Regions from separate parts of the Homo sapiens genome. Here region 2 is linked to region 1. The links come from fine-mapping of genetic effects on gene expression. A gene starts in region 1. The other region holds a variant in brackets. All regions are shown on one strand. Distances are between the middles of the regions. Region 1 holds the start of EFCAB12 (EF-hand calcium binding domain 12). Region 2 holds the start of SNORA7B (small nucleolar RNA, H/ACA box 7B).

Region 1 (9,775 bases):
AACAGTTTGGAAGTGTTCTAAAAAATCAGAAGGGGCCAGGCATGGTAGCTTATGCCTGTAATCCAAGCACTTTGGGAGGCTGAGGTGGGAGGATTGCTTGAGCCCAGGAGTTCAAGGCCAGCCTGGGCAAAATAGTGAGACCTCATCTATACAAAAAAATTTAAAAACTAGCCGGGCATGGTGGTGCACGCCTGTAGTCGCAGCTCCTCAGGAGGCTGAGGTGGGAGGATCACTTGAGCCTGGGAGGTCAAGGCTACAGTGAGCTGAGATTACCCGCATTGTAATCCAGCCTGGGCAACAGAGACCCTTTTTCAAAAAAATTTAAAAAAATCAGAAGGGATATAACAATCTTATTGGAAATACTGTCACTGTCATTTTCCTCCTAAAACCCAAACTCCCTTGCTTAAAACCTGTCCATGGCTCCTAACTGCCTCTAGAGTAAAGTTCAAGCTCCTTAACCTGGCCCCACCTGGTCCTCTCACCCCTACCAGCCTCTCCGATTTCTCTGGCTCCTTCTGCCTTCCCTTACGTTTGTATCCAAACAGATCTGCCCCACCAACACACACAAGCCATGCTGTTTCCTCCCTGTGACATGCTCTTCTCCCTCCCTGCTTCACTTCTTGATCCCTGACTCACCCTTTGAGACTCAGCTCAGGCATCCCGGCCCCTTGAAGCCCTCCCACTCCCCTTCTCATGGGCCCTCTGGGTCCCATAGCCCCCACACTTAGTCCCATCATAAGCATTTACCATATTTTTCTGAAATGAAGATACTTTCTGCATCTTTCTTTCCCAACAGCCTGTGAGTTTCCCAGTGACCAGGACTGTGTCTTAGTTCCCCTGTGTCCTCGGTGCCCAGCCTGGCCCAAAGTGGACATTCAGTACATTTGTTAAGTCTCTTTACAAGGCCCATGTGTTCCTTTCAGAGTCAGCAAATAAGAAAAGTAAACATCATGGTATGGTTTGCATCTGTGTCCTTGCCCAAATCTCATGTTAAATTATAATCCCCATTGTTGGAGGAGGGGTCTAGTGGGAGGTGATTGGATCATGGGAGAGGACGTCCCCCTTGCTGTTCTCATGAGAGCGAGTGCTCACAAGATCTGGTTGTTCAAAAGCATAGCACCTCCCCCTGCTCTCACTTCCTCCTTCTTGGGTTATGTAAGATGTGCCTGTCTTTGCCTTCTGCCATGATTGTAAGTTTCCTGAGGCCTCCCCAGCCATGTTTCCTGTACAGCCTGAGGAACTGTGAGTCAATTAAACCTCATCTCTTTATAAATTACCTAGTCTCAGGTAGTTCTTTATAGCAATGCTAGAACAGATATTACACATCAATAGGGATGGAAGCGAACACTTCTAAACAACACATGTATCATTACTTTGACCACAAGAAAGTTCATTCCCAGCAGGGGATGACTGAGAATGTAGTCATTCATCAAATCAGTATTTATTGAGAATCCCCCAGGGCTTGGTGCTGAACCAGGTGCAGATTAAACTAGGCTGGGCACCTACCGTGGTTCACCTGTTCTCAGTCCACCCAATGGAACAAGGTGGGGCACCCAGAGGGTAACAAGATGTTCTCAGTTGGGGGAGAAATGCTGACTGTGGGACCTGGGAGGGCATCAAGGAAGAGGTGTCTTTGATGTGGACCTTCAAGAATGGTCTGGCTTCATGGGGTGGAGGGGCAGGGATGGGGAAAGGTCAGGAGTGGGATTTGGGGATTTTAGGGTCACCAGACAGTTCCACATGTTGGAAGCCCACTGTGTGTAAAGGAGGAGGTTAGTGGGAAATAAGGTTGGCGTCATCTCAAATGCCAGGCTAAGAGATTGAAACTTTACCCTGCAGGCCACGGGAACACAAAACCTGCTCCCCACAGGTCTTGCTGCTCCCATTTGGGTCCTCCCTAGACCCCCAATCCATGTTCTGCCCTCAGCCAGGAGAGCCTTACAAATGTAAATTCACAGTCTGTCCCTTCCCCATTTGAAACCATTCAATGGATTCTTAGTGCTCTTTGAATAAATACCCGCCTCCTTCTGTGGCCTACAAAGCTGCCTTCACTGGCCCTGCTCCCCACTCTTCCCTTGTCACCTCCCAGCCCCCGCCCCCTCACTCATGTGGTCCCAGCTGCTGTCCTCCTTTCTGTTGTCTGAGGTGCCTTGTTCCTTCCTGGCTCTGGGTTTTCAGTTTTTGCATTTGCTGTGCCCTCTGAAGAGCACTGCATTCCCCAGGGCTTCCCCTGGCCGAGTCATTCTCCTCACAGTTCTAAACCTGCACCAGCCCCTGACCCCACTTTCCAAGGGTGCCTGCCCACCAAACCTCCTCAGGGAGCTTCATTCTAGTGCTCTTTGGAGTCCTGTGTCCATTGACAGAAAGGGAAATGGGCTCTTATAATAAAAGAGGCTGTCATTGTGTAGTTATGGGTAGAGACTATGTGACAATGTTCCTAGGAAATTGGCAAGGAAAGCTCTCAGACGCCAGCTAGTTCAATCACCTGCCCAGGTCAGGGACACTCTCCTCAATGCCACTGGCAGACTTTGCCTCTGTTTATACATCTCCTGTGACGTGGAACTTTCTACTTAACATGGTGGACACTAAACTCTGACTGCTAGAAAATATTTCCTTATATTGACCCAGAATTTGTTTCCCTGGACTTTCTACCCTTTGGTTCTAGTCCTCCCCATGGATGTCCCAGAAAACACACTTGTTCTCTCTTTTCTCAGACAGCCTATAGGTGTCTGGAAACAATTCTACTCTTTCTTGAAATTCTCCCTGCTCTTGGCTTGATTCAATCTCTTGCTATGTCCAATTCTACCTCTCCGGCTATTGTTTTTGGGCCCCTCTTTTCCTGATTACTCCTTAAAGGTTGTTGCTTCCAGGCTTATACCCAGGGTCTCTTCTCTTTTTAAATAATCCCTTCCATTCTCATGTTTCTATGACCTTCTGTATGCTGGGGACATCCATACCAATATTTTTGACTTGGAATTAGCTCCAAGTTTATACCTCCAGTTGTTCCTAAAACATCTCCACTTGGATGGCTTACAGGGTTTTTTTTTGTTTTTTTTTTTTTTTTTTTTTTTGAGACGGACTCTTGCTCTGTTTCCCAGGCTAAAGTGCAGTGGCACGATCTCGGCTCTCTGCAAGCTCTGCCTCCCGGGTTCACGCCATTCTCCTGCCTCAGCCTCCCGAGTACCTGGGACTACAGGTGTCTGCCACCACGACCGGCTAATTTTTTGTATTTTTAGTAGAGATGGGGTTTCACTGTGTTAGCCAGGATGGTCTCGATCTCCTGACCTGGTGATCCGCCCACCTCAGCCTCCCAAAGTGCTAGGATTACAGGCGTGAGCCACGGCGCCCGGCCGGGGATCTTTTTTTATTATTTATTTTTAATTGAGACAGGGTCTTGCTCTGTTCCCCAAGCTGGAGTACAGTGGCTCAATCATAGCTCACTGCAGCCTTGAACTCCTGGGCTCAAATGATCCTCCCAGCTCAGCCTCCTGAGTAGCTGGGACTACAGGTGCATGCCATTAAGCCTAGCTAACCTTTTTTTTTTTTTTTTTTTTGAGATGGTGTCTTGCTCTGTCACCCAGGCTGGAGTGCAATGGCATGATCTTGGCTCACTGCAAGCTCCACCTCCCTGGTTCATGCCATTCTCCTGCCTCAGCCTCCTGAGTAGCTGTGACTACAGGCGCCTGCCACCATGCCCGGCTAATTTTTTGTATTTTTAGTAGAGACGGGGTTTCATTGTGTTAGCCAGGATGGTCTTGATCTCCTGACCTCGTGATCCACCCACCTCAGCCTCCTAAAGTGCTGGGATTACAGGCGTGAGCCACCCCACCAGGCCTGGCTAACTTTAAAAAACAATTTTGTAGAGATGGGATCTCACTATGTTGCCCAGGCTATTCTCAAACTCCTGGGCTCAAGCAATCCTCCTGCCTCAGCTTCCCATAGTGCTGGGATTACAGGCGTGAGATACTGTGCCCAGCTACTGACAAGGATCTTAAACTCAACCAACCAAGACTGGATTTGTCTTTGTGCCCCTTCCCCCACTAACTGGGTCCTCTGAGTACGTTCTCTTATCTCTGTGGAAGACATCTCCATCTACCAGGTCCCCCAGCTGCCAACTTGAGAACCATCTTTATTTGCCTCTTCTGTGTTTCCTGACCAACCAGCCCCCAAGTCCCGTAGTTCCCTCTAGCCTGGGCCTTCTCCCTCACCTCCCAGCATCTTTAGCTTGGGCATTTGACCAGAGCCCTGACCTGTGTGCCTGGGAAAGGTGGCCAGCCTCTCCAGCTCTCCCTGTTTCTCCACTGGGCATTAATGTGTTCAGTGCTGGAGAAGCGGCATGGAGAAGACCTTCAGTCTTCAAGCTTTATAGCCCCCAGCTCTCATCTCCCCACACCAACATTCTGAGTCTGCCAACTCAGTCTCAGGTCTTTTCTGACTGCTCCCAATCCAGTCCTGCCACTCCCAGTGGCCTCTCCATCTCCTGGCTTGCAGTATCTTTTATGATCTTGTCCCTTCTGACCTCTCTCACCTCATTTCCAGAGACACCAGACCTCTTGGGTCATGCTGTTTCCTTGCCCGAAATGCTTTTCCTTCCCCTTTTGGCTTGGAGAACTCCTTTTTATCCTTTAAGCTCCAGTGTAAAGATCTTTTCCAAAAGCTTGGAACTGTTCCTCCCCATCCCATACCCTCAGCACACCTTTTACTCCTGGGTGTCATCCCTGGGCCCGGCATTTACCCCTTCTTATTCTGTAATTATCCATTTATCTCTGTCCTTTACCCGTGAAGCTGCATTGCTTTGCCAAGAACTTGGTCCCCAGCACATTACTGCCAAAACCTTGAAGACTGACGTCTTCTCCATGCCTCTCCTCCAGTACTGAATACATTAATGTCCTGCAGAGAAACAGGGCGAGCTGGAGGGCTCCCGTCACATGGGTCGGGCCTCTGGTTCCTCCAACTAGGCTCAGATAGAAATCTCAGAAATGTACATGACCTGCCCCCGACTCCATGGCAACCCTTCACCCAGAGGGGGTCGGCACAATATCTGTGGCTGAGTTTTTGCCCTCACCCCACTTTCACGCGTCCTTAGGGCGCTGAGCGCTCCCTGCAGACGCTTCTTCCCGGGGCTTACCGAGCAGCGACAAGAACAGACTGTGGTACGCTTCATAGTCGTCGTCCATGGTCGTGGTGCTGGGAGGGGGTGCTGAAGGGCGTGTGTGAATGTGTGTCGATGTGGGCTTGCTTGCGTAGGGGTACCGGGGTATCAGATAAACCGTAACTCCAAGTCGTGCGAAAGGCGCTCAGCTCAGACTGCAGAAGCAACCTGTTGCCGTGGCTACGGACGCCCCGCGCCAATTGGCTGAGCGCTGTCACGTGTTAAGAGCGAGCCCGCCCTGCCGAGCGCCTGCTGGCCCCACCTCGTTTTCGTCCAATTCTGGGAGGGGCAGCGAGCAAATCCACGCCCCGCCCAGTTCTGGGCTTGGTGAAAGGCGGGATTTCTTTGTTCGGCCCAGTAGTCCCTGAATCCAGTGTAGAAAGTCTCCGGTTTTCCCGTGAAATGTGGGATCTTCCGCAGGTCTCCATATCTCTAGGCCTCAGTTTTCTCATAGGAAAAATAGGCCCTGCCTCCTCCAGAGGGTTAGGAAGAACCAAAGTGAGCTGTGGCCAGATAGAGGTGTTGGGTATGTTCTGCCCCGCTTATGGCAGGGTGCCATGGTTTGGAGTTACAGAACCTGAGGACCAGAGAATAATAATAAACCCTTGAAATGTGCATCAACTGATAAGCAAAATGAGGTATATCCATAGGATGGCCATAAGAAGGAATGAAGTACATGCTACAATATGGATAAACCTTCAAAACAGTATGCTAAGCAAGAAGCTAGACACAAAAGGCCACGTGCTGTATGATTCCATTTATGTGAAATGTTCAGCATAGACGAACCCACAGACACGGAAAGTAGATGAATGGTTGCTAGGGGATGGGGTGAGTAATTGAAGTGACTGCTAACAGGTGGAGAGATTCTTTTTGGAGTGGAAAAAAGAAATGGAAACTTCTGGAATTAGTGATGATGGCTGCACACTGTAAATGTACTAAACCACTGAACTGTACACTTTAAAATGGTTAAATGGTGGCTTTTAGCTCAATTTTTAAAAAGTTAAAGAGAAACACCTAAGCCCTTATTCCTTTGCTGAGACAAGCTATCTTTGTGACGCTTGCAAACAGATTGTTGCCATGGGCCACATTCACACAGCACTCTTGCAAGCCAGGTACCATTTTAGCACTACATGTCTGAACTTCATAATTACCATCATTGTGTGAGGTAGACACCACTATCCCATTTTTAAAAGACAAGTTAACAGGTACAGAGGTCAGGCAACCTCACCTGCAAGAAACAGGAAAAGCCAGGCCTAGAGCCTGAGCAACCTGGCTGTGTCCTGAGCTCCCCTGGTGCAGAGCTCGCCTCCTGCATTCACACGGGCCCACACTCCCCATGGAGATGCTGGGGGAAGGTATGTGACCACCAGCCCTACCACAAAGCCACACCTGATGCCCTGAGCTTGGTGAGCTCGCCCCACCCTCCAGGCCCAGCTGGGCCCAAGGTTTCAGAGGCCCCTCTCCACCCTCTTTGGGTGTCTTGTCCCTACTCCTTACCGCTTTTGTTCCCTTCCATTATTAGGTGCCCTTCTTTCTCTCTGTGAGGGTCTGTACAGAACTTGTTTATCTTTGTGCCCCTCCCCACCACAGGGCTTTACACTTTGTGAATGCTACTTGGATGTTTGTTAAATGAAAATGTGATGGTAAACTATAAAGTGGGTTTGCCTTGGGGAGAGGGAGGTGTGGCCAGTTTTCCTGTTCTCTGGTCAAAATCTATCCTTCTAAAAACTGACACTCACTAAAGTGGAAACAACCAACTACCTCTGCATCACACTGCAGCCTGATTCGGTTCACACTGCCCTACAACAAAGGCAGTTTCCTGAACAACTGATTTATTTTTCATTTATTCAATCAATTTAATTTTCAAATTATACCTTAAAATGGTAGTTGGTAATTAAGACATAGTAACTAGTTTTTTCCCTTGGTTTCTTTCTAATAGTAAATGCTTTGGTATTTGAACTGTAACAATACTTGTAATAAAAATGGCATTAAGACTTATTTTTTTTAAGACAGGGTCTTGCTGTGTCATCCAGGCTGAAGTGCAGTGGTGTGATCATAGCTCACTGCAGCCTCAATCTCCTGGGCTCAAGGGATTCTCCCACCTCAGCCTTCTGAGTAGCTGGGACCACAAGTGTATGTCACCATGCCCAATTAATTTTTAAAATTTTTTGTAGAGACGGGGTCTCATTATGTTGCCCAGTCTGGTTTTGAACTCCTGGGCTCAAGCAATCCTCCTGCCTCAGCCTCCCAAAGTGCTAGGATTACAGGTGTAAGCCACTGTGCCTGGCCAAATGGTATAAACTCCAAATGGAAGATGAGAAATGAGTTTTCACAAAGGGACCAAGGTAAAAGAGTGAGTGAGCTGAAATGGAGCAGCAGGCCCATATTCACATTAGGTTATCAAATGGATACTGGGGTGGAATCTACAATTCCTAAGAGCTAGTGTGGAGCTGTCAACAATACACAATGCCAGAGGAATCTTATTTGTCTTTGGGGTCAGCTTTTATTTTTATTTTTTAAATATATATTTTTTGAGACAGGGTCTCTCTCTGTCATCCAGACTGGAGTGCAGTGGCATGATCATGGCTCACTGAAGCCTTGACCTCCTGGGCCCTCATGAGCTCAAATGATCCTCCTGCCTCAGCCTTCCGAGATTACAGGCATGCACCACCACGCCTAGCCGATAAAAATATTTAGTGGGCCCCTAGCTTTAGCAAGGCTGATAGAAATTTGCTTTGTATTATTGATAGTTTAGAACTATTTTTCATCTTCTGATTATATTTCATCATTGGAAAAGCCGTATTTTTTTTGGATTGTTGTCAAATAATAATTTATTTTAAAAAAATCTCAAAACATGTTCAAACACATTCAGTAGCAAAGATCCACCATTGGCACACACATTAAGAAAGCACACACACTAGGCTTCTAGTTGGGCTAATTAAAATCTCTATGGCTGGAAAGGTGGTTGGTTGTACTTAATTAAGCTTTTTTGAAGTGCAAAGCTATGCATAACAGATGAGCTTGAAAGCTGCAGAGTTTAAGATAGACTTAATTTTTCATGATTTTCCCAAAGCCAGTCATGATATTTATTTAATTTGTGGTCTTCAGGGTGCACCTGGAAGAAACATAAGATACAGAGGCAGAGACCTTAATGTAACTTAGTCAGAAATACATTTTTTAAAATTGGCTTTTTAAATGTTTGCTGGGGGACAGTACATTACGATACCATACCTAAAAGTTATAACCTTTAACCTCCTGGGATTCATGAATATTTTAAGTTATACCTTATATTAAGGTAATCTCACACAATTTACAAGGTACTGTCCAAATTACTACTCAACCATGACTTAGAATGTGGGGTGGCGATAACATGAGTCAAGTATTAATACCTCACTTTCCAGAAGGAGGTTCTAGACCGAGAGGTTAAATGGATTCTCAGGTCACAATGGATTGCTCTGATGAAGCTGGGATAGGACCATGGTCCTTCAGTTCAGGCTTGGCCAGACCTACTGGCTGAATGCATGAGGGTGAGTCTCAAGCTGAGTGGGCAGCATACCAGGCCACCCACCAGCTGCCAGGATGACCACCAGCATGCCACAGGCTGGGCATATTCAACAGGGCTGAAGCAGGACCCAGTCACCACAAACGTAGTCTGAGACCACTAAGAGAAACCCAATATGCATACATTGCAGGCCCAAACCTTCCTGCTTTCCTGTAGTGGTGTACTTTTGACAGGAGGAAAACCACGTCAGGCTTAGAGATAGCACACAAATAGGGAATGACAGGAACAGGGCCAGAGGTGACAAACCACTGGAGATGAGTCAGAGGCCACGCCGCTGGACTGGTCTTTGTGGACTTGGGAGCGCCTACTGATCAAAAACCCCAAAACCCACATGCCACCCGCTTCCCCGCAGCCAGGAACACAATTGTTTGTGACTGTAATAGCATTTGTATCCAATAAATAGTCTTAACCATAATGGTGGACTTATTTTGCCTCAGAGACCAAATGTGCTGAATTATGGATGGGAGTGAGCCTCACCTGCTTCCACTCATTGACACAAAAAATTCGGTAAGAGTCGTTGCCATATTTACCAATCCCATGAAGCTCAATTGGATACTTCCACTGCTTTGTCAGGTATTCATCTGAAGAATACAACATCCCACATTATCAGGTCAGCTTCTAAAGACACCCTCCCAAAATGTGTGGTGATGGGGCAGGATGGAGAGAACAGCAGAAAGGGACAGGAAAGGCTCTTTCCCAGCAACCCCAGTTGTGATTACTCTTCCTTCTGAATTCCTGCAGCACCCATATCATTTGCCAATTCCTAACCACTCTTTTGTGCTGTGCTAACAAGACAGAAGTCATGTCCTTGAGGTCAAGAACTGGGCTTTCTGCTTCACTGACTTCTTCCCCTAATTCTGCCCACATGCCTGACCCAGTGCTGGGCAAAGATTTATTGTTTAGGTCAGTGGGAGACTGTGGTTTGGGGAAAGTGGACTTTTTTAAATGCCTTGGGTGCTTGAGCTGAAAAACCTCCATTAATATAGTATCTGAGAACATTAAAGTTTAAGGTGTGGCTCTCTTAAATAAGCACAATGTATTATGTTTTTCCTTTGGGTGTA
Region 2 (9,775 bases), 35 kb before region 1:
TGTGGAAGCATGTTGCCTCCAGCAGTCGTTAAAACTTTCACCAGCTTGTCTAAGAGTTTGATTCAATGTCTCATCGTCCTCCGACATGCTACTCTTGCTAGTAAACAAGCAAAAGGAAACTGCTAGGGCTCAGGGTTTGGGTGCTACTGAGTGTTTACAAATACTCGAGCTGTAGACAAGCAAATGTTCCCTGACACAGAAGGAAGAAGTGTGCAGGATATTCCTCTTTATCCTCAGCTCTGCTGAGAGAGAGAGAGAGAGAGAGAGAGAGAGAGAGAGAGAGAGAGAGTGTGTGTGTGTGTGTGTGTGTGTTGGGGACAATCACTTGCTTCAGAAGACAGTATTGTGTGATACAAGGAATATCTGGAGTCAGACAGAACTGTGTCCAAATTCCAGCTCTGTCTGACCCTGACCTGTTCCTCTTCTTGGTCTCAGCGTCCTTCACTCTAACACTTGGGTAGTGAGACCTACCCTGAGGGTCACTGAGAGGAATAAAGGGGCCATGTGTGTATAAAGTATATACCCAGAACCTAGTGGATGTTCAGCACGGGATTTCTTACCTTCTCTTTAGAAGTAGGGACATCGTAAGACTTGTCATCCTATTTTATTGGTCTCCCTCTTGGGCAGAAACCCTAAACATTCTGCTCTGTCATCCCCATGAGCCACAACTCTGCCAAACGGGGCCTGCGGATTTGGGAGATCTTGGGAGCTTAGGGGTCATGGATGAGTCAGAGCACACACTATTCAAACTATTCCGTCATAGCTTTGGAATACACAGGAAAGCAACCCTGAGGAATTTCCATTAAACAAACAAAGGTTTGCATCTTTTTTTGATCTTTGCTTGTCTGGTAAAAGCCTGCTTTTGTTATCAAGCCTTCCCAGCGGGAACCTAGGGGAGAGAGACAACAGCCAGGAGCCAAGCCCAGGTTCCAGTAGGAAGGCCCAGGGGCCTCACTTGAAATAGCCACATCTAACCTTTGTAAAGGCTGCTTTCTGCCCATGGCTGCAGAGGCCATTTCCTTTGCTTCTAATTTTTCCAGGAGAGGAAGAAGCGGGGAGAGACCAACAATGACCTGTTTCTGGCAGATGTGTTTTCCTACCAGGGAAGCTCCATGAGGCTGCCAAACTGTACAAGAGGAGTGGGCACGAGAACCTTGCACATGAAATGTGTTGGAAGAAAAGCTGAGTGTTGGGAGAGAAGCTGAGGCAGGGCTTGCATGTTTGCTAGACTTGCTGCTCCTTGCTTCTAGCATTCCCATGTTCTCAAGTAGCCATATGTTTCTCATTCACTTGATACACCGTTTCCTTTCAACCCCCACATCCTCACCACCTGTTTGTTGCAGCCTCCACACTTGTGATAGCCCCCTGGTCCCATTTTGTCTCTCAAACTGTCTTTCTCATTCCTTGGACTCCACTGGACTTCGTCGCCCCCATGACCTGCTGTTGGGTCTGATCACCCCAAAAGAAATGAGGTTTGAGTATGTTAGAGTATGCCAAGGTAACCCACCCTGTCCCAGGCCCATGCTCTGGCTTGGAGCCCACTGGTGATCTCACCCACGGTGTCCAGGTTGTTTTCCCTAAGACTGGTGCAGACAAAAACTAGCAATGGTCTCAGACAGGATGTGGGGAAACTGGTAAACAAAGGACCCATCTACAGCCACTGGTTGAAACTCACCTAAAACTGACCTTTAAGGCTGACACCAAAGGGGCAGAGTATGGCAGTTCAGACCTTCATCAGTGACAGAGCTGGATGGCTGTGGGTCTACACCAGCACAATCCCTTCATTGAGTTGAGGGCTCAGGGCTTCAGGGCTGTCCCCCACAAATCCTCTCAATCCTTGTCAGGAGCCGCCAAGAATCGGTGTCTTCAGGAAGGAGCCGGTCCTGCCGATCATACAGGACGACATGGTGCCTGCCAGCCAAGGTTCCCATAGCACCTGCTGATTGTCCTGGACTTCTCACTGGGCTTCTGGGAAGTCAGGCAGAGCCTCCGCCCTCCCATGTTAGCGCAGCATGCCTCACGCCTGCCGGCTGCAGAGTGGCTACCATGTGGTTGCAGTGGGTGATGGCAGAGATTCCCTTTTGCATTGGGACGGCCCCCATGAACCTTACTCCCCAGCAGAGCTGGGCCTTTTAAGGCAGGTGTAGGAGAGGAGCTTCCTGGACCAGGCTCCTGATGGCTTCTGTGGGAAGGAGTTGCACTAAGGAGCCCAGAGCAGTCAAGACATTTGCAGTTCAGTCTAAGCAAGGTTCAAAGAGGCTTGGGTACATTGGGCAATGAGGGTCTTCCTTCCATCAAGGGGTTTTGTTAACCTGCCTTTTCTGGGAGTGTCAAAAGTGGCTCTCAGTGTGTTATGAAGGGACTCATCGGCCATAACCTATTAGTGGGCTACTAATGGTAATTCTCCAGCTCACAAGTTCAAGATAGAAAATCTTCCCCACTTTTTTCTGATTTTCCAGATGGCTGTGCTCTTCCACCATCTATTCGACCCTGGAGCTGAAGGTGTGTTTGGTGGCCTGTGATGTTGCCCAGGACTTGTTGTTCATCAGGACTTGGACGAGCTCCTGGGCCCCAGCCTGTCTTTTCACCTTAGTGATTTCTTCACTCCGTACCTGAGACCCAGGGTGTTCAGGCTCCCTCTACTTTTTCCTCGTCACCTTTCCTACCCTCCCTCAGGCCCCACCACAGACACCTAGAAGATTTCATACCACATTCATACTGAGATCACCAGAGTCAGTGCATCTCTGCTTCCGGGGATAACAAAATTTTAACTCAGGATGAACTCTTGAGGGATCAAGACCCTAGAGGTAGAATTTAGGCTTAGGAACCCCTGACGCCTCCAAGGAGACAGCTGTACTGCAGTCTGAATTTGAGAAATGTGTACATACACATTATGTGGGGGGTGGGGGAGATCTAGTGCTGATTAACATGGCATGTTTTTGTTTACTTGAAAATTGCTTCTCAAGATTTAATCTAGTTTTCAGAAAATTTTTAAATTTACATTCTCATGTACAAATAAATTGTATGCTTTCCGGATAAGTGACATGTTTATATGGTGATAAAGGGAATTATAATGCTCTTAACTCTTATGTAGTATGTTCTCATCAAAATCACCAAGCATGAGAACACTGTTTAGTCTCATTCATCACTCAGCACAGCCTCTTTCTGTCCACTTCAGGGCCAAGTCTTTGCCATGGCCCCACATAACGTGTAAATTAGCTTCAGGGATCAAAAATCTTTGAAAACCCAGTTTGCTGAGCCTTGAAGGAAGCCTTTAGACCCAGCTTCAATGAAGTCACAGCTCCCTGAGGGTCCTGGTGGACTGGAGGCGGCCTCCCAAGCCTGGGAGCTGTGTGCCTGGATGGTCTCACTGGGGTGATGACCCAAGCTCATGGCTCCCTCTCAACCTCTAACCCTTCTTAACACAGTCACCCCTGGTCCCCTGAGCACTCACTGAAGTCCCTTTGAAGGACATTTCTAGTCTCCTAAGATGCCTGTTTCCTCCAGCTGCCACCCTCATTTCACCAGCCAGGTAGGCAGGTTTTCCAGCTTCGTGCTGGCATAGAGAATCCGTGCCATAGCAGCTGCCAAAAGGAAAGGTGTGTCTGTAAAGGCCCAAACTAGGCGGGGACAGTGGCTGCTTTCCAAGCCCCTTCCCTTTGTCAGCTCCAGGGAGAACCAAAGGCCAGCCAGGGGGCCTGTCTTCTATTGGGTCCCAGCATCAGGGTATACAATGCGCTTTCCTCCCCTTCTTAAAATGTATCATATATTAGGCCGACCTAATACTCTGAAAGCACATTTACTCTGAAAGCAAATGAGGGAAAAAAGCGAGCTAATTGTTCAAGTGGATTTTTAGCATACATTGACTGTACTTTCCTGACACATGAGTGTTAATCATGGGGAAAGGAGTGCTTTTTTTGTTCTCAGTGAGGCTGACACAAAGTACTCTCCACAGGGTACATTATTCCTGAGACAAACCACTTCTTACCAGTAACATAGACCTGGGCTGTAAGTGCTCCCAGTTTCCCTTTTTGAAAAGCTCCACCTTTAAAAGCTGCCTCAACTCTGGCAAACTCCCACGTGTGTATTTTGGGTAACTACCCTGAAAAGAGGTGGTGTTCTGAGGCTGTTTCTCACACATTGTAGGGCCTGCCCAGAGAAGCTGGGCATACCGCTTCAGAGGTATGCTGAGGCCGAAGGAACACAGGCCCTAGGCCTGATCCCTGAGCCTCCAGGACCACAGCCATCTCTTCCTTCTCAGGTCCTCTCCTGAGCACCTTCCCTGCCTCAGATCCCCCCATGGCCTCCTGCTGTCCCACTGTCGGATCAGGTTCTCACCCCTGCAGACCTGACCTCAGCACAGGATCCCTAACCATTCAGCCGAGAAGCAACTAACCAGAGAGAGGTTTGCTTGTTATCTGTTCCAGGAAAGTAACTGGGGCAAAGACAATGTGATGATTCTCTAGTTCAGGGCACAGAATGTTTGCTGGTGACTCAGAGAGGGCATGGAGGGCACGGAGGGCCGGCAAACACTGTAAGTCATTTTGTCTGTGTAAGTTTAGGGGAACCCATGCTCAGCCTCACTCTGAAGCATGTGGTATCACCCATATGATCTGAATAAGATGACAGGTCTCGATATGTGGAACTGTGCACCAGGTTGTCTCATTGCTGTTTAGGAACAGTCCTGTATTTACCAAACTATGTGAGAGAGAGACAGCCTGATCATGAACCCCCGACCCTGCAGACTTCATGTGCAGTGCCCCAAATAGTCTAGAAAGTGTTGTTTAGCCGATGAACAAATGCCCATTTGTGAGATGGGAAGGAAGCACTGGGGGCCAGCGTCCCTGATGCTGTCCCAGGATCCCCCAGGAACACCTGCAGGGCAGCCTGAGATCACTCTTCCCGAGACCTGGGACTCCCCCAACTCAGCCCCTCAGGGCCGGGCCCTGCCTACCTCCTGGTTGCCTGCTTCAGCCATGTGGAGCCCGCCCTTGCTGCTAGAAAACCCTGATGTAACGCTGGCACAGGAAGTTCTGATCCAGAGTGTTTTTGTTTGTTGTGCTTCCTCAGGATTTCTTTGGATCTGGAGACCCCAAAGAAACAAAGATG[C/T]TAATCACCAAACAGGCTGACTGGGCCAGAAATATGAAAGAGCCCAAAGTCACCGTGGGGATGTAAATCTCAGCAGGAGAGCACGTCAAGGCCATTGAGATCTGTGGTGACTATGTCAGGGTTGACATGAAAGTTTCCGTCTGTGCCCTGAGCATTTGGCAGCATGTCATCACATGCCACCTCTTGGCTTTGACTGACAAGGAAACAAATCGTGCGTCTCTAAATATTTAAAGCAAATGTGATAGCGATTGGGTTCCTTGGGAGACACAGAGACTGCCTGTGTTTAGCACTCAGAGCAGGCCCCACACTCACCTCTTCCTTTAGAGGGCAGTCATTGAGGAATTCTCACGCCTTGGCCTCCACTTTTCTGTGTGAATTCCTGCACCCGTGGTATAAAGAGCGCTGGGCCACTTCCTGGCTGCTGAGTCTTGGGCTGGGTGCTTCACCTTCACCCCAGACATTATTCTTCTCATCTGCAAGATGGAAATAATCATGCCCACCTCTTAGGGACCCAAGTGACAGGGCTTGGGTATTTCGGCAGGCCTTTATCCTGCTTCCCCATGGCATGGAGCTCCTGGGCCTGGCACCCCTTCCCTGCCTGCCCACCCGGGTGGCCTTTCCTCTTGGCAGCCAGGCCCCAGGGGCCCGAAGCCAGAGTCCAGGGGGAGGAGGACACGTGCCTGCCCCGGCCCCTCGGGAGTCCGTGGCTGTTTTGTAGGAGTTGGTGCCCTTGTGCTACCGCTGCTCCACCAACAACCCGCTGCTCAACAACCTGGGCAACGTCTGCATCAACTGCCGCCAGCCCTTCATCTTCTCCGCCTCTTCCTACGGTGAGTCCCTGCATCCTGAGCATGTGGGTGGGACAGCCTGTGGACGGCTAGGCTCACTCCACTGCTCTCTGGCCTCAGGACATTGGGCAAGGGCCAAAGGCCTCTGAATGTCCCTGTTTATGAAATGAGGACACTCTGACACCCACCTACCTGACACAAGGAGTCACTGTCGGTGTTCCCAGAGATAGGACCCACTGCTGCCCAAAGCTGAAGCACCCACTCTGGGAACCTGGCGCAGGGCTTTACATAACCAAATGCCCCAGGAAGAGAGTCCGATGGCTTTGCATTCAGACCAGGAGGCTGAGATAGGTTTTCAAGGCCCAGCTCCTTTGATGTTGACAGAGGATCAGAAGCCCCTTCCCAGGAGCTGAGCAGAGGCCACACACACACAGAGACTGCCCCTGCACACACACACACACACACACACAGAGATTGCCCCTGCACATACACACACACACAGAGACTGCCCCTGCACACACACACACACTGCCCCTGCACACACACATACACAGATGGCCCCTACACACAGACTGCCCCTGCACACACACACACACACACACACACACACACACACACAGAGACGGCCCCTGCACACACACACAGACTACCCCTGCACACACACAGAGCTAGCCCCTGCACACACACACACAGAGCTAGCCCCTGCACACACACAGACTGCCCCTGCACACACATACACACACATACACACACAGAGACAGCCCCTGCACACACACACACCGACGGCCCCTGCACCCACACAGACTGCTCTTGCACACACACACACTCACACACATACACAGAGACTGCCCTTGCACACACACACACAGAGACTACCCTTGCGCACACACAGAGACTGCCCCTGTACCCCACACAGACTGCCCCTGCTGCCTCTGCTTGCCTATTTTTTTTTTTTTTGTATTTTTAGTAGAGACGGGGTTTCACCGTGTCAGCCAGGATGGTCTCGATCTCCTGACCTTGTGATCCGCCCACCTCGCCCTCCCAAAAGTGCTGGGATTACAGGCGTGAGCTTGCCTAGTTTTTTAAACCTGCTGTTCTTGTGCAGGCATGGTGGCTCATGTCTGTAATCCCAGCACCTTGGGAGGGCGAAGCAGGAGGATCACTTGAGCCCAGGAGTTCAAGGGTGCAGCAGGCCATCATCATAGCTGTTAATGGCCACTGCATTCTAGCCTGGGCAACAGAGTAGAAACGTCTCTAAAAACAAACCGTAAACACTACCTAGCACTAATGTCCTGTGACCCCTCCTTGCACTCTCCACCTTTGTGTAAAGTACTCTCTGTCCACAAAGTCTTCCTCTTATTCTCCCTCTAGTTCACATTTGGTTGTAAAGCCTCCGTACCCCTGAAAATACCCCTTACCAAAGCATAAAGGGCCTCTTAAAGTCTGAGGCCTATGTTTGATCTTCCCCAAATTCCCTCATAAATAAAGCAACATTCTGGAAACAACAGCCAAAAGATATTATATTGAAAACCGGTGATTACTGCTGTGTTCACTGTGTCAAGCAAAGTCCATTTTTCTGGTCTTGGGACTCCACAGCTATGAGGACAAAAGTCTCTCCCCTCTCCAACAAAGGAAACACACTGAACTCCCCAAGAAGCATTCTCTTTTTCCTTTTGGGATGGAGTTTCACTGTCGCCCTAGGCTGGAGTGCAGTGGCGCGATCGTAGCTCACTGCAACCTCTCCTGCTGGTTCTCCCACCTCAGCCTCCTGAGTAGCTGAGATTACAGGCGTGTACCACCACGCCCAGCTAATTTTGTCTTTTTAGTAGAGATGGGGTTTCGTCAAGTTGGCCAGGCTGGTCTCGAACTCCTGACCTCAGGTGATCTGCCCACCTCGGCCTCCCAAAGTGCTGGGATTACAGGCATGAGCCACCACACCTGGCCCCAAACAAGCATTCTCTAAACTCCTGTAAGGAATGACTTCACATTCCCTCAGAGAATGTCAGCTTCCCAAAATGCATCCCAAGAGTTTCCAGAGTTCCTGCCAGAAGTGCCCGCACAGATGCAAACTTCAGACCCCTGAAACCAGAGATGGACCCAACTCACTTGTTGCATATCAGCAGCACTCTCAGCTCCTTGACATTGTGGACCAGGAACTTCCGGAAGCCACTGGGCAGCACGTGCTTTCTGGTTTTTTTTTTTTTTTTTTTTTTTTGCTCCTATAACCAATGCTGGGCATCATATCAAGACCTGGCCCTTGAACCTTCTATGAACCCTGTTGTCAATGCCTCTGGGTTTCCACCAGTTACGCTGAAGGAAATAATACACAGGTGGGTTAGCATCTGTGCAGACTGCCAACTGTTCCATAGGGGAGGGAAAAAAGGACCAAATGAAAAGGAAGTATGCCACACAGTAGTTGCCTTTGGTAATAGGACTTCACTATTTCCTTACATGCTTTTTTGGTGGGAAAAACCAGGAGCTCGTGGCTTTTGCCACTAGGAAGGCAGGCACCCCCGCCATTCTCACTCCCAAGAAATGGAGACACCAATGGGATGCGAGGGGACTGTGTAGATATTGAGATGGCGAGCACAGGTGCAGACACTGCTCTCAGCACCTCTGAGTTTTCTTGTCTATAAAATAGGGATCCTGCTGTCATAAGGCAACCCAAAATACATGATACAAATGCAAAGCCCTCCAAACATATCAAAATGGCCAAGTGTCCCTTTTCATTAAAGTTTCACTTCACACATCAAGAGACGTAAGTACCAGCACTAGGGCACACTGGGGGAGACCTGTATTTCCACAGAAAGCTCTTCCACAAACCAGTTCATCGGTCAAAGGTAATCCTGACTAGGTGATGTCAGAACTGGCAGCCTGTTGGAAACTCCTTTCTTCACCCCACACCCATTTCCATCCCAGGACCACACACCTTGATTTTGACATATCGGTCTGACTGGTGCCGGATGAATTTCTTGGTTCTCTTTTTGACGATCTTGGGCTTCACAAGGGATCTGAGGGCAGCCATGATGCCTTTTGGGGAAGAAGTAGCCCCAGGTGAGGAAGAATCCTGGAAGGAGGCTTTCCCGCCCAGGGACTGAACACTGTCGCAGAGTGTCTTCCAATCACCAGCTACGGAGCAAGCTGGGAATGGAATGGGTGCCTCTGCCAGGCTTGCTTTCCCTCCCTTTCCGAAGCTGGCAGAATACTAGGCAGTCTCCAGATGCGATCCCAGGAGGTCAAGGGTCACCTCACCCACTCAGAGCCCAAAGAATGCCAACAGCTGAGCAAATCAAAACTGACCCCAAGACACTCTCAATTTGCAAGGGGCAGCAAATCCCACCCTGCCAGTGTCTGAACCCCCAGATGGTCCTTCCGGTAGTACTGGCCTTGACCATCTACTTGAACTGGAGTCTCAGTTTCCTCACCTGTAAAATGGAGACGACATTGTGTGCTGAATGCCTGCAGTACCTGTCACAGGGTAAATGTTCAATAAAGAAAACCTTCTAATTCCCTAGGTAGCAGCTGCGCTACCACACCCCCAACACACACAAAACCATCATATCCCTCTAAGGATGCCTCAAACCTGGAGATCTTCCATTATCAACTCACAACTTCCTCAGTGTGGTCTTCTGAGCCATTCATTTATTTCCTACAGCAGCACCCCTTCTGTTCTCTTTGCAGCCATCAGTTGGCACAGAGTGGGTACTCAATGAACCACGTATTCAAAACAACTTTGCCTTCTGGCCCATGATATCCTTGAAGGCAAGGGGGAAGTTTCATCTTTATATTCCCAGAGCTCCTGACGATCAAAATCTCTGTTAACAACTGAGTGAGCTGACCTGCACCCCATCTTTTTTTTTTTTTTTTTTTTTTTTTTT

The links. PIP is the estimated chance that this variant, and not a neighbour inherited with it, causes the effect.
Region 2: its variant is fine-mapped to the expression of EFCAB12 in whole blood (TOPMed, PIP 0.96).

Annotation. Positions count from the first base shown.
Region 1 is chr3:129,423,312-129,433,086 of GRCh38, forward strand. It overlaps EFCAB12 (EF-hand calcium binding domain 12), which reads right to left and starts at 5,325. Exons shown (of 9, transcript NM_207307.3): 1 at 5,129-5,325. The coding sequence starts at 5,177. It overlaps MBD4 (methyl-CpG binding domain 4, DNA glycosylase), which reads right to left. Exons shown (of 8, transcript NM_001276270.2): 7 at 9,192-9,295; 8 at 7,636-8,267. The coding sequence ends at 8,190. RefSeq lists an enhancer at 1,230-1,279 and a silencer at 5,462-5,511.
Region 2 is chr3:129,388,214-129,397,988 of GRCh38, forward strand. It overlaps SNORA7B (small nucleolar RNA, H/ACA box 7B), which reads right to left and starts at 9,135; the gene lies at 8,997-9,135. It also overlaps the pseudogene RPL32P3. RefSeq lists enhancers at 201-1,400, 6,503-7,199. The variant C/T (reference allele first, on the strand shown) is at 5,110.